4 linked regions of the Homo sapiens genome follow. The protein of the gene in region 2 purifies or fractionates together with the protein of the main gene of each other region. This does not show direct contact. Each region holds a gene or a part of one and is shown on either strand. Other genes may lie near its edges.

Region 1 (3,562 bases), on a different chromosome or scaffold from region 2:
AAGTATAGTTTTAAGATGGGAGATTGAAGATTAAAAAAAAAAGCTTATAGGATTTTTATGGTATGTCAGGCTTAGATTGAAAAACCAAGAGGACATTTTAAAACCTGAAATAAAATCAAAACAAAGCAAAAAAAAGCTAGTTTTGGAGCAAACAGACTTGAGAGAGAGGAATCTCAGAGTGAGTGTTATCACTTTGACATCTCTTTTACATGGCTCTAAAAACATCTTGAGTTTTAACTTGGGATGATTTTGTGAAAGAGGAATCACAAAACTACAGTGAGTACAAAGAAAATGTTTTAATAAAATATTCAATACAGTATTTCCCTGTGGGGATTCTAGAAGAAGAAGTGAGATGCTGAAGGAAGTGACTGTCACTGTGGGGAACCCAGTCCTAAATGAGACAAGACTTAGCTTTCCTTCAAAGACACCTTGTCCAGCTCTGCCCAACAGGCCGCAATGAGATGGACCAGGAAACCTTCAGGAGTCACCGACAGACAAAGCGAATGAACTGAATCCACTTACAAACAGATCCACTTAAGCAGTTTTTGCCTCAGGCTTCCTACCAAATGCAGTTATCATGGAGACAGGAGAAGGCTGATGTACAAAACGCATTAACATGATTTTGTTTTTTCCCCTCCTATTCTATTTGCATTTCCAGAGTGATCATTAGTAACACAGCGATCTGGGTTTCACCAACTAAGCATTTCAAACAGACTCATTTCTTGACCAAATTTTGTGCTCAAGGCCTGTTACTATTAGTGTAATTCTTGTGTTTCAAATTGAGAGAAACGAGCATACCCACCCCTGCACATAACTTAAGTATATCACTGCGAATTCTACATGTATGAAACAAGCATAAGCCATGAATCCTCCACTTGGTGTGTTACTTTTTATTACTACAGAAAGTGCTGTTGCTTGAATATGAATATCATTTAGTGTAATAAAATGTAGAAGGACACATTATTGTGTTCCAGCTCTGGTTCAGTCTGGCAGTGCCCAGCATAAACCGTCAAAACTTGATAAAAGACTGTCTTGGGGTTATCTTGCTGTCATGATTCCGATGTGTTTTGATTTCCTTCTGGAGTCATAAATTGCACCTTTGGTACCATGAGGGAAGAATTGTTCCTTCGGATAGAATTGTTCCTCCTCATGGAATTGTTTCTTCTCATGGAGTTGCGCTTCCTCAGAGAATTTTGATGAGACAGTTCACTCTTTTGGAGGGTCTGAATAAGGATGGAAGGTTTCTCATCCAGCTCTCGGGCACTGCACCGTGGAGCAGCTACTTTAACAGTGTTGCCAAATTTGGAGTAATCCACAGAATACACTCCTTCTTCCTCAGTCACAATGGACACAAAGCGGTGGCCCCATTGGATCTCCTCAGCAATGTAGGAGGTTCGTGCTTGTGTGGTGATGCCAGTAGTTTCAACCACTCCTTCCAGAATAACTATGACCTCCAAGTCTTGGTTGGCCAGGTCAGTTGCTGAGATGTCATACAGGGGACTGCGCTTGTCAATCACGTGGCAGATGATCAAAGGGGCCACCAGAAAAATGTTATTGCTCTCGATTGGGTTATCAACAGGAATGTCCAGTTGGTGAATAGGAACCACCTCCCCTTCAGGTGTAGTTGTTTTCTTGACCACCTGGATGCGCACAGAGGCACTAATGATCATGCTTTTCCTCAGGTCACCCACTCGGAACATGAAGCACAGCTTGCCATTTCGGACGGCAATCACAGCATGGCGGCTGAAAATCAAAGTTTCTGCCCTTCTGTGAGCCTGAGCTGTTTTCATGAAAATGCAGCCTAACATGACTGCATTGATGATCAAACCCACAATATTCTGGAGAATCAAAACCGTGATGGCCAAAGGGCATTCCTCTGTCATCATCCTCCCTCCAAACCCAATGGTAACTTGAACTTCAATGGAGAAGAGAAAAGCAGAAGTGAAAGACCTGTGAGGAATGATATCAGAAAAGAACACCATCAGGTCACATTTTGAATAATGAAATATGCCAAGCTGAGCTTTTCATTTTCTTCCACCAAAGACTATTAAATGCTTGCAGAAAGACTAGCCAACTTAAACTTGTAAAATGCCTAATTCTAAACTGTGTTTAGAACAGTCTCTCTCTCTCTTGCATGCATCTACCTCCAGACTTCTGGAGATTAACATTCTATTAATTAAGTTCCCTTAAGCTAAGGCCTAATTCTATTAACATTCTATTAATGTTTCATAGGTCACATAGTGATGGGCCTAATTTGTGTAAAAGATTAATATATTTTCATATATATGCATATTTTACCTTGCGAAATACTTCACTTTCACAAAGGCACAGTTTACTTTGTAAAACTTTCTACCAGGTAGATGTTTATTATTTATTGCGTATCTATGTTTAGGAGACTTGAGTCATATGGAAGGTACTGAGTACTGAGTGAATTTATTATTTATAATCTTTAAAATCATATTCATTAGCTAATACTTATTTTGTGTCTCATATAGAAATAGCACAGTGCTAAAAAAACTAGTATAAAACACATTATTCCAAACAACTAGTATTTTTAATAGAAGGGAGTTGTTTTCCATTTGGAAAGAAAAGTGTCTTATTGATGATCTAATTTTGTTAAGTCAGGGGTCCCCAACCCCCCCCCCCCCCACCTCCAGGCCAGGGACCAGTGCTGGTCCATGGCTTGTCAGGAACTAGGCCACACAGCAGGAGGTGAGTAGTGGGTAAGCCAGCATTACCGCCAGAGCTCTGCCTCCAGTCAGGTTAGTGGAGGCACTGGATTCTCATGGTATAGTGAACCTTATTGTGAATTGCACATGTGGGAGATATAGGTTATCCCTCCTTATGAGAATCTAATGCCTCATGATCTGAGGTGGGACAGTTTTATCCCCACACCATCCCCATCCCCCACCCCCATCAGTGGAAAAATTGGCGTTCCGCAAAACCAGTCCCTGGCTCCAAAAAGGTTGGGGAGCACTACTCTAGGTGTTCTGGAGAATACTGAAATGATTAAAGGGAGAACTAGGGGCAGAAACTAGTAAATGACTGTGTCAAGGTCACATACAGATATGCCTTATTTTATTCTTCTCTGCTGTAATGTATTTTGCAGATACTGCATTTTTATAAATTGAAGGTCTGTGGCAACCTTCATCCAGCCAGTCTATTATCACAATTTTTTCAAAACGTGCTCACTTTGTGTCTGTGTGTCACATTTTGGTAATTCTCACAAAATTTCAAACTTTTTCATTATTATTACATCAGTTACCATGATGTGTGATTAGTGATATTTGATGTCATTATTGTAATTGTTTAGGGCAGCAGTCCCCAGCCTTTTTGGCAACAGGGACTGGTTTTGTAGAAGACAATACTGGGGGGTGTGTGTGGGGGGAAATGGTTTCGAGATGAAACTGTTCCACCTCAGATCATCAGGAATTAGATTCTTACAAGGAGCCCGCAGCCTAGATCCCTCACCTTCGCAGTTCACCGTAGGGTTCACACTCCTATGAGAATCTAATGCCCCCACTGATGTGACAGGAGGCAGAGCTCAGGAGGTAATGTTTGC
Region 2 (3,562 bases):
GTGTTTGTATTTTTGTCTCTTTGAGACTTTCTGAGAAAATATTTGATACAGTGCTCAGATTTCATACGTTAAGGCACTACATATTGATATTTTACACACAAAGACAAGCAATGCTTTTCTGGTCCAACTCAACATGATTAATCGTTCTGCATTCAAGAATAAAACATTTCATTTGTAATTTTTTTGAGCTTTCACTTTTAATTAAACATAGGATCAGGGCATTATGTATATTTTATTTTTATTCATACTGGCCTAGGCATTTTCTTCCCTAATGATTCGTATTTGTCTTGTTAAAGAGAAGACAGAAAGATTATATTTAGATAATGTGATAAATATAATAAAAGTTTGTTCTTTCAAATCTTGATATATTGTTCTGATGTTCTGGTAGTTTCTTAATTTCTCCCATTTAAATGTGTCGACTTTTTACAGGACAATAAGAGCTAACATTGATAGAGTACTAACTGTCAGGTGCTTTACATGGTTTATATCATTTCTTCCCCACAAAAAACGTTAAAGTTACTGTTACTATTCCCCTTATATGGATGAGAACACTGAGTCGTACAGAATTGACCTGACCACCCCACATTTGCACACCTATTAAGAAAGGATGCTAGTCTGGGCTGTTGAACTATGCTCTCTGCAGAATAGGGTAGTGACACATATCTTCATAATAATGTAGCTTCTGCACAGTTAGTGAGTTTTTGAAAATAAGTTTCTCCATAAAACTGCATTACTTGGCTTATCTTTCAGATAAAAAAATGAAGCTTTACAGAATGAAAAGATACAAAATCCATAAAATGTATGGAAATAAGAAAAAAATCTCTTGCTCAGCAACAACTTGGCAGAACCAATCTGACCAATGTATAGCAAATATTAATATGTGATTTGCTTTTCTACATCTGCTGGTGTTTCACAAAGGACAAAAGAAATAATTGCATAGAAATTGCATAAAAGCCATATGTTCTATTAATAAAATTGACTAGACATTTTCAGCACTCACCACCAATGTCTTTAACCTTATGATAATATTATAGTTGATATTTACCTTTTAAGAAAAATACAAATCACTGTTTATTCCCTGAAGCTAACCTTACACATGCTAAATTATTTATGTATCCATTTTAATATGTATTTTGCATCTGACAGGACAACTCTCCTTAGGACCCTTTTACTGACCCACCTGTCATTATGATGGGGTAAACTATGTCACCTTTCTAGTGCACGATGAATTACAAAGAAGTTGTAAAGTACACCATCCATCATGCTGGCACTAAGTAGGTTTTTGAAGTAGATCTCAGATATCAGAAATGCTGTTTAGACGGTTACCAGAAAGCACAAATTGGAAGCTTACACAAAACGGTCCTATGATGAATGGACATGACAGCTCTTCCAAGAAAAGGGGCACTCCTCTTCTGCAAATAACCTTGTCAAAAGCAAAAAGTTGTGGGAAGCTTTGCTGGCAGTCAGACTAGAATAATTTAAGAACTTGTTAATGGCTCTGCAAGACAGAAATTCATGCAAACACAATGTACTCAAAATCAAAAAAAGAGGCATGCCTGAATCTTTAGCAGCAACCACTCAAGCTTGATTTGAATTAGGGAATGATTTAAAGTGATACAGAAAAATCACCAGCGCCTTATCTATTAGAACATGTGAGTTTCAATAATATATCTAAAACAGGCATATAAAATATGTGCAGGTATTGTATATGCATATATAATAGCCACCTAGAAATTGCTTTTGAAAATTATAATACTGATATAATCTGAGTTTTAAGAAATGAGTATCAATAGCATGTGCTTTCTTGATATAGATATTTAAATCAATATGTATTTAGTATAATAGATTTGCATTATTAATACAATCTTAAAATAGTGTCTTTATCTAATTTGCATAATTAATTTCTCAAATTATGTTCTTCAAATACAAGGTGTAAGGTTTATCCGTATTGCATTTTGTTTCCTTTAACAATCCCTTTTGTTTAGCCCTAATATTTCAAACATGGAGTATATTTCTACATCTACAGTTAACTTTATTTTCTCCCTTTTAACAGCTGCATTTTAAAAGTTTTTTTAAACTCTTCTTTATTTTAAAAAAGGCAGTTTTAATACACTTACAAATGGTGTCAGGATACTAAATAAGGACTTAGAACTATGCATATTTGGATAACTCCAGAAATCTGCAGTAGAGGTTGATTTTATTTTATGTGAAACAAAAGGAAATTTAAAAACTTAAAACTGTTAAGATAAACATGTAGAAAACTCTCAGAGATATGGTTACACAGGAATATTTTAAAAAAAACACCCCACCCAGTTTCATTAGCAAAATGAAAAAAATAATTAACTTTTTAAAAAATAAATGAGTACTCTTTGATAGTAAACAGATAAAACCACTGGTTGGTTCTCTTAAGTTTTTCATTTTTAAATTGGCTCTTTCAATACAAAGTCAAATCCTTAGACATAGGCGTGCATTGCCTTAACTGTGAAAGATGGAGACATACAAGAAAGTGTTACTGAACCCTATCTTATCCCAATTGTCCCATATGCTGTAATAGAAATTGTCATACAACATGCCCAGAAAAACAACACAAAAGGCCATTGTTATAGATACATACACACGTGCATTAGTTTGAAAGTTAAAATATAGTGTTTTTAAGTAAACCGGCTTCTTCTTTTGTGTCCTCTATTGACAAGAAAAAGTAAGTGAAAAAGAAAAAAAATAAAGAAGAGGAAAGAACCACATATATTTGGATAAGAAAAACAACTGTTTCATTTAAAGGGATCTAAAAAGACAGCTACCGAACATATCGAACATATAACCAAAATGCTGAGAATACAACTCCCTTATAACTTATAATTCTAAATGGGAGAGAGGCTGGGGGTGGAGAACACCATCGGTATCCTGCGAATTCACATTTCTAGTTTCTAAGGTCTGATGATTTGAAATTGTCAAGGAAATAAAAATGGTGCTCAAGTAAAATTTATGGAGGCTAACTTAGCCTCCACAAACAATGACTGCTAAATTTGAAAAAGATATTAAAATACTTTAGGCCTGAATATATTTTAATTTTAATCAAATCATAATTATAGGGTCCCTATAAACTAATCAATCAGTGGCTGCTTGGAATTTGGTGTGGCCTAAAAACATCTAGAAGAAAGGGAATAGGCTCAGTTTTTAAAAGTAAGAAGGTTGAAGCTATAGAATTTTGCAAATTCACATTTTTAACTTATTTCTTAAAATATTAAACCTCTCTACATATTAGTAATATTACATATATTTTAAACTAAAAAATTATTTTACATTAAAAATGAGATGACATTCAGTTGTGTGAAGGAGTCTAACAATGGACACTACATAGCCAAACATTTATTACTCTTACACACTACTTGAACGCAGGACACTTGAAGGTGAGGCTATCTAATTGCAGAAGTGTGAAAGAATAAAGAAAATAAAGGGCGAAGAATATTTATATATCCATCCTACAGCATCATCTGTTAGAATAAAAGGGATGATTAACATTTTTGTGATTCAGCCTAGACTTTTACAAAATATAAAAAGCAAA
Region 3 (3,650 bases), on a different chromosome or scaffold from region 2:
TCTCTCCTCCTTCCATGCCCCCACTCCCCACCCAAACTTTTCACACTGGGGAGAAGTTTCTGACATGAACATCTAACTTGTTTTCTCTCTTCTGTGTTTCAGGGAACAGCGGATGAAAGAGCACCCCTCATTCGAACCTAAACATTGCCTTTGCTTGGTGAAGAAACTGTGTGAGCTGTCCTGACCTGGACGATGACGTGGGGAAACCCTCCACCTCCTTGCAGGCTTGTTGCCTGTTGAAAGAAGGAAAAAGACACGGCGCTGGCAAGTGATAGGAACATTCTGGCCAGAGGTTAAAGAGCAGGCTGACATGGCTGGCCATTAAGCTTTATAAAATCATGTGGGCTCTGAAATTGTTCTTTTATGTGTCTAGCAAGTATTTAATAAACCCTTGTATAGTAATTTTGTTGTTGTTGGGTGCTGGTAGCTCCAGAATTTTGTGACCACTATTGTGGGTAAAATGTCTCTGCATCACTTGTTAATGCTACTGGTCTAACTTCATTCAGTATGCTTCATTCACCGAACTTTGTGCTCAAAATGCGTATATACCATTTTATGTTGTATTCCTCCATTTCACTTGCAAAACAGAAGTAAATAAGAGTTCGGGACCCAGGGTAAAATGGTAGCTTCATCCAATATATCATTCAAATGCATCTGATTTCTAAAACATATTACATTTTATGCTGATCTTCAGTTCATAATTCTTCCAGGAAAACTCAGTCTTCCAACTGCAATAAAATACTGGGTAGAATCAAATGGGAAAGGGGTTGGGTGGGGCAATACCCATGAGTTGATAGTGATAAGCTCCTAAGGATTTTTAACTTGTACTTTTGTGAACGAAGAGAATGCATAAATAATGTTGGTGAGGATAAAGTACAGATATTTCATGTAGAATTAATTGCTAGTTATGATGCTTGTGGATAGTTAACTGTTTTTTTTTTAGTCAAAATGATCATGCTACGAAAAGATGCTTCTGAGAGAATGTAATGAGTAACTGATTTTTCTTCCTGAGTCGCCCTTGCCAAATATGTTACTGTATTAATTAATCTAATATTGAGTGATTATTTGTAAAATTATGAATATGGGAAATCCATCTATCTACAGCCTAAGTTACACATAAGTTTCAGAAAGTCTGATTAGACTAAAGAGATATTTCTTCTGGGACAGCCGCCTTCTTGGTAATTTTGAAGTTCTTTTTACAAGTTCCTTCCTCAGTTTCAGTTCTTTCCAGTGTTTTGTAGCTCACTGTCACTCACTGAATAGAGAAACGTGTGCCCTATACTTCCTGTGACAATCATTTTGCTGACAGAATGATGGATGTTTAAAATATTGCACAAAGTACTTTAAAGAAAGGTCTGTTAGGACCAGAAGCAGAGACACCACTTTTCAAAGGACTTCTTGGTTTCAGCATAACCTAAGACAGGGAATTGGGAGCCATCATATGTCACAGTGTTCAGAATTCAAGCATATTTAAGGGCATTTTCTTTGATTCTCAAAGTTCAGCATTCATTTTGAATTGAGAAGCCTATACATTTAGCTGACAAAGTGCTTATAGAATTTCTTAACAACTGAACCATTCAAAAGGATTTTTTTTGTTTAAAACTGGATTTCAATGTAAGCAAATGAAGAAAAAAATATAGATTTCATTTCCATAGCTTCTTATCCCTGTATTGAGGTAATAAATTGTTTTACTGACAATTTTTCCTTTTTCTACACTAAAACAATATGTGATATATTTCCCCTCTTGAAGAGGCAATTCATTAAACTCTCAAATTTTCTATAGAATCAAGATAGAACCTTTAGATACTCCAACTCACCAAAATGTAAAAAAACTAACAAAAATATTTGGTCTTCAATAATGCTAAATATCTACATTTTTAGAATTTATCAACATTTAACTAGATAATTGGGCATGTCTTAATTATGCATGTACTTATCCATACTAATAAAATTGACAATGCTAGTGCATACTTATTGGTTTAGTCCTATTATCAGGATATAATCATCTGTGAGGAGGATATTTTAAATACTGTAAATGATAACAGTTAATGATATACACATTTAGACTGAGTTGCACACTGGCAGGGAGACCAAAAACATTACTTCCATACTTGTGTCATGATTCTTTTTTTTTTGAGAGAGTCTCACTCTGTCGCCAGGCTGGAGTACAGTGGCATGATCTCGGCTCACTGCAACCTCTGCCTCCCGGGTTCAAGCAATTCTCCTGCCTCAGCCACCCAAGTAGCTGGGACTACAGGTGCGTGCCACCACGCCCAGCTAAATTTTGTATTTTTAGTGGAGACGGGGTTTCACCATGTTGGCCAGGATGGTCTCAATCTCCTGACCCTGCGATCTGCCCACCTCAGCCTCCCAAAGTGCTGGGATTACAGGCGTAAGCCACCGGGCCTGGCCTGTTTTATGATTCTTAATAGTTACTTGGTTTAAATCACATTTGATACTATCCTTCTGAAAAGTCTGAGACAGATCTACAAACTACAGTCAAAATTATAGATTAAGAGGAATGAATGCACCTATTTGGCTTTAAGTTGAAGATGAATTATTTCTCATGCTCATTTTCTTGCGGCAGTTATCTTAGAAAGACCCCCAAAGGCTTTGTGATTGTAAGCACTGTCATGATCACAGAATGCAAGCTTCTGGTACCATGATCCTCAACTTAGAGAGGAAGAAACCAAGACAGAGAGCTTAACTCACTTCTCTCAGGGAAAATTAGGAGTTGAGCACAGGACAGGAAATGGGCTTTGCCACTTTTAGCTCCAGGCTTTTCTAACCAGACTTGATTTCCTCATGTTCTAGAAAGATCACTAATGGTCAAGTGGAACAAGCACTACACGACTAACCCCTATTGGGGTTTTTAACTTAAGGGAGGCTAATTTTTAATTTAAACTGCTCGAGATATGAGTTCTGCAAAAGGTGGTCCGCATCCTTGGCCCTCTGGACATTATCACTAAATTGCTTGTGCCTGTTAACAAGAATACTGACCAGAATGCTCTTCATGTAGCTTATACAGTTGGTTCACTTCATGCGGTTCTTGACATGTTTATTTCTACCCTTAATGCAATGAAATGTTTCATTAATAAAAAACCACTTTATATAAAATTGCTCTAGAAGTCATATGTCATTGGATGTCCTGTTGTTTATGGAGTTTCCCTGGAAAGATGTTCCTTGACAGATGCAGCCCTGAGTCACACACTTGGGCCATGTCTGATTTCAGCTTCGCTGTAGTGGACAGTTACAATCAGCCTGACAAGTTTCACTCCAAGCAGTCCCACATTCTGCTTTTCTGTCTTAAGTCTTTCTCAAGAGCCCTCAAAGCACCATAGGAGTATCAGGGAGTTAATAACCCAAGGCAACCCTCAACTAAATGGGGCAGGAGTCAGTCAGCTGATAGATGTTTCAATCCTCAGAGGACCAGTTCTCAGGCTTATTCCACATGGGTCCTCAATTAGGGTTGCCCACAGTGGTAACTACTTTCTATCAGTGTTTCTTTATTCCCTGTCTTAATCGCCCAGCCCTTCAATGCTGCTTCCCAAATCATCCACCTGTCCTAACATCCTTATCTTAGGTCTGCTTCCAGGTAAACCCAACCAAAATGCAGATAAGTCCACCCAAAAGGGCTCAGTAGGATCCAA
Region 4 (3,562 bases), about 130 Mb from region 2:
AGCCACCGCGCCCGGCCACCCCTAACGCTTTTAATTGTTACCTTCCCATCCAAGTGGACTGCCCTCTGCTCACAGGTGTGGAGCTGGGCACCAAGAAGGTCAATCGAATCATACAGTACAGCAGTTGAAGAGAACCAGAACTCAAGACTCAAGAGAGTATGGCCTAGCCAACAAAGGCTGGGGACATCTGGGGCTGAGGCAGGCCACGCTCACCTTTTGTCCAAGAACACCAGAGCGGTAATGCCTGAGGAGACCTCCTCGCTGCTGCAGCACAGCACCCCTTCAATGGCGTCCCACACCTACGAGTCCAGAGGCTGTGAGCACCTGCCAGCCAGAAAGGCCCACAATCCCCGGGGCGGACAGCCGCTCTGCCCACCTTTAGCCCCTCTGCCCACCTCCAGCCGGCCGCTGCTCCGCCCCACCACGATGAGGTTGCCCTGCAGCTCCAAGCTCCAGATGGAACCCTCGGCACTGGGGGCCCAGGCGAGGGAAGGGGAGCCTTTCTCGGGGGAGCCACCCTCGTCCTCAGGGGCCTGGGACAGCACCGGCCCAGGCGAGGGTGGGCGCAGGGCTGGTGTGCAGACGGCCGCCAGCCCCTCCTCCTGGTACACCCGCTGCACCAGGCAGCTGAAGTCATAGCCTGGGGAGTCCCGAGAGCGGCCACAGACCGCCCGGTGCCGGGGCTCGGGCTGAGTGGGCTGTGAGGACCGAGGCTGCGCTGAAAAGTTGGTGTCAATTAAGCAGGTGAGGTCAGGCTGGTCCCCGAAGAGGGAAGGCGGCGGAGGGCCCCGGGGGCGGTGTCTCAGGGGAGGGCTGTCCCCAGGCTCCTCTGGACCAGCCTTCCCACCATCTGAAAGTCGTTCCCAGCTCTCCTGAGCCTCAAGCCCGCTGCCCACGCCACTGTCCCGGCGCTGCCTGCTGGGGGCCAGGAGGGCGGAGTGAGAGGGGGCACGGGGGAGGGGGGTGAGAGGGGGCGGGGGACGGGGGTGAGAGGGGGCGTGGGAGTGAGAAGGGGCAAGGGAAAAGGGGGTGGGGGGAGAGGGTGGTGCGGGGTGGGGAGAGGGGGGTACGGGGTGGTGGGAGGGGGTGCGGGGGTGGGGGGAGAGGGGGCCTGGAGGGGTTGGGGGATACCTCGGAGGAAGAAAGGAGGGGAGATACGTGGCGGCGGGGGGTGGGGTGAGGGGGGTTGTGGGGGCACAAAGGAGGAAAGGGCAGCCGCACCTACCCTGGGCGCGGAATGCGCGTTAGGCAATCCCCGGTCTGCGCGTCCCACACGCAGACGTGGCCTGCCAGGCAGCAGCTCACCAGCAGCATGCCGTCGCTGGCCAGGCACTCGATGTCCTGCAGAAGCCCGGTGTTGGTATGGGCCAGGCTCCGGCCCTCCCCTACCCGGCCACTGTGCCCCTGCTCACCATGAGGTGGCCGCGCAGCACAAGCGGCACGATCTCCGTCTCGGGTGGCGCATAGCCGTAGTCGTCGCAGGGCAGCTCCCCGCGCCTCCGCCGCCCGGGCCCACCACCCAGCTGCCCGTAGTTGCGCGGGCATAGCACGCGGTAGAGGCAGAGCAGCAGCAGCACCAAGACGATGCCGGTGGCCAGGCCCAGCGCCGCCACCCTGCACGGGAGGGCGGACTGCTGTGAGACACACCTCACAGCCTGTCCCCTCCCCTCCTCCCTCTCCCCTACTCTTGCCTACCCGTCCCCCTCCCCGCACTCTTTCCCACCCCACCCCACCCAGCAGCCTTACTTGTACAGCGTGACGTCTCCATGGGCCTGCACCCCACCTGGGCCCTTGGGTCCTGCTTCCCAGTGCCCAGCAGGTATGGGCCCCGGTGGGGGCCAGGCACTGCGGCCGTCCTGAGGGTGCCGGCCCTCCAGAGCCTCCCTCGGGTTCAGGCGGAGCGTGACTGGGATGACGGGCAGCAGGCTGATGTACCTGGATTCGGACAGTGGGCAGCCTCAGCGGGGGGCCTCCCAGGGCTTCCTCCTGCTGTGCTCGCCAGCCAGTCCTCTCCCTCCTCCCCAGGCAGGCCTCAGCTCCACCGGCCAGACTCTCCCAGCATGGGGGGTTGGGGACAGAGGTAGGTCCCTCCCCAGCCCAGCTTAGCAGCCAACTTGCTGTCCCAGATACCAGCACCCAAACAGCCCTGGTGGCCGTGTGGGGTATCTCCCTCCCCACTCCTGGCACAGGTGGGTGGGTCTCATTCTGGTGAGGGCTGGCAGCCACCAGTGACTCCTCAGAGCAACCTGGGACTCCTCTCTTGGGTTATAGCTGCCTAAACCACCAGTTCCCACCTCACAACCTTATGAACTGTTTTAATTATTTGCATAATTCAAACCTGTGGGCCTCCTGCATTGGGGAAAGGGGATGGTGAGTTGACACCATCGAGTGAGGTGGCACCTGGCACGGCCCAGCTCACCTCTTGGCCAGTGTGATGTTGTAATAGCTGAAGAGCGTCGGCCAGTGGCGGAAGGACAATTTCCTCCAAAGTTCCTCATCCTCAGGCCCCCAGGTTACCTCTGGGACTGGGCTGTCATGGACAACCTCTGCTGGACCTCCACGCTCAGGTGACTCGCCTGGCGACGTCTGGTTCTCAGGTAGCTTAGGGGCATCAGGTGGGAAGATGGAGAAGGCAGGGTCCGGGTGGCTGGGGGGCAGCATGCCACTAGGCACGGGCATGGGAGCCAGGGCTCCCTCACCCAATGGGCTCTGTTCCGTCACCTGGGCAGCGAGGTAGTTGCGCAGCCCTGCTGGGTCTGTGTATACCAGGATGCCAATCCAGACAACGGTGCCAGCCTGCAGTGGGGCAGGGGGTACTCAGTGGGAGGAATGGGCCCCAACCCCCAGCAGCTTCAGCCCTCATGCTGAGAGGAAGCAGCACAGGGACCTCAGGCCTGGGGATGGAGAGAGGACACAGGCCCCACTGCGTCCTTTTCTCCTGCCTCTCCAAGTCCTCCTGCTAACACCTGCCAACACTTGCTGCTGGAGGGGCCTGCTTGCCTTTCCACAGTTAGGGGCTGAGTTTCTTGGCCTGGAAATACACTGAAGCACCCTGAGGTTTGACACAGAATGTCCCCACCCCTAAGCTCCACCTCAGCTGGAGCCAGAAAGCTGCTACCATTCCTACGGTCAGAGGGCCAGCAACCTGACCTGCTCCAGAGTCCCCCAGAGGTCCTAGTCCCAGGGGGCCTCAGCCTTCCTCCCATCTCAGTTCAGCTCCCTGGAAGAGGCACTGCTGCCCCAAGGCCAGCCCAGCCCGGCTGGTGAATGATTTTGCCCAGCACTTTCCAGTGTCTGCACACCATGCAGCGGCCGATGAACCCGACCCAGGGCAATGTGGTGGCCACAAGTGGGTCCATCCCAGAGCACTCAACTAACAGGCTCCTGTCCTGGGCCACTCTGGGGAGAGGATGGCTCCTGTACCTGAGAACCCTGGAGCTGCTTCTCCCACAGGCTTATCTCCTCAGAAGCCACTAGGGTCTGGGCAGGGAGGACACAACGGGCAACTCCCCAGAGCCAGGCTTCCAGGGGCCACCAGGGCCTGAGGAATACCCTTTGCCAC

Evidence for each region. Proteins that work in one complex are often made in the same cells at the same time.
Region 1: the proteins of NAALADL2 (region 2) and KCNJ8 purify together in Homo sapiens (affinity purification with mass spectrometry; 3 studies listed by BioGRID and IntAct, with this or other methods). This does not show direct contact.
Region 3: the proteins of NAALADL2 (region 2) and SCARB2 purify together in Homo sapiens (affinity purification with mass spectrometry, with the first as the bait; one large-scale study listed by BioGRID). This does not show direct contact.
Region 4: the proteins of NAALADL2 (region 2) and SCAP purify together in Homo sapiens (affinity purification with mass spectrometry, with the first as the bait; one large-scale study listed by BioGRID). This does not show direct contact.

The regions. Positions count from the first base shown.
Region 1 is NC_000012.12:21,764,674-21,768,235, forward strand, and holds the end of KCNJ8 (ATP-sensitive inward rectifier potassium channel 8), read right to left. Parts: intron 1,951-3,562; coding exon 1,050-1,950; 3' UTR 282-1,049; downstream 1-281. UniProt on the Homo sapiens protein: Inward rectifier potassium channels are characterized by a greater tendency to allow potassium to flow into the cell rather than out of it.
Region 2 is NC_000003.12:175,236,801-175,240,362, reverse strand, and holds part of NAALADL2 (inactive N-acetylated-alpha-linked acidic dipeptidase-like protein 2), read right to left. Parts: intron 1-3,562. UniProt on the Homo sapiens protein: May be catalytically inactive.
Region 3 is NC_000004.12:76,158,204-76,161,853, reverse strand, and holds the end of SCARB2 (lysosome membrane protein 2), read left to right. Parts: intron 1-102; coding exon 103-141; 3' UTR 142-3,117; downstream 3,118-3,650.
Region 4 is NC_000003.12:47,416,909-47,420,470, forward strand, and holds part of SCAP (sterol regulatory element-binding protein cleavage-activating protein), read right to left. Parts: intron 2,797-3,562; coding exon 2,420-2,796; intron 1,936-2,419; coding exon 1,747-1,935; intron 1,615-1,746; coding exon 1,413-1,614; intron 1,342-1,412; coding exon 1,226-1,341; intron 919-1,225; coding exon 396-918; intron 300-395; coding exon 214-299; intron 1-213. UniProt on the Homo sapiens protein: Escort protein required for cholesterol as well as lipid homeostasis.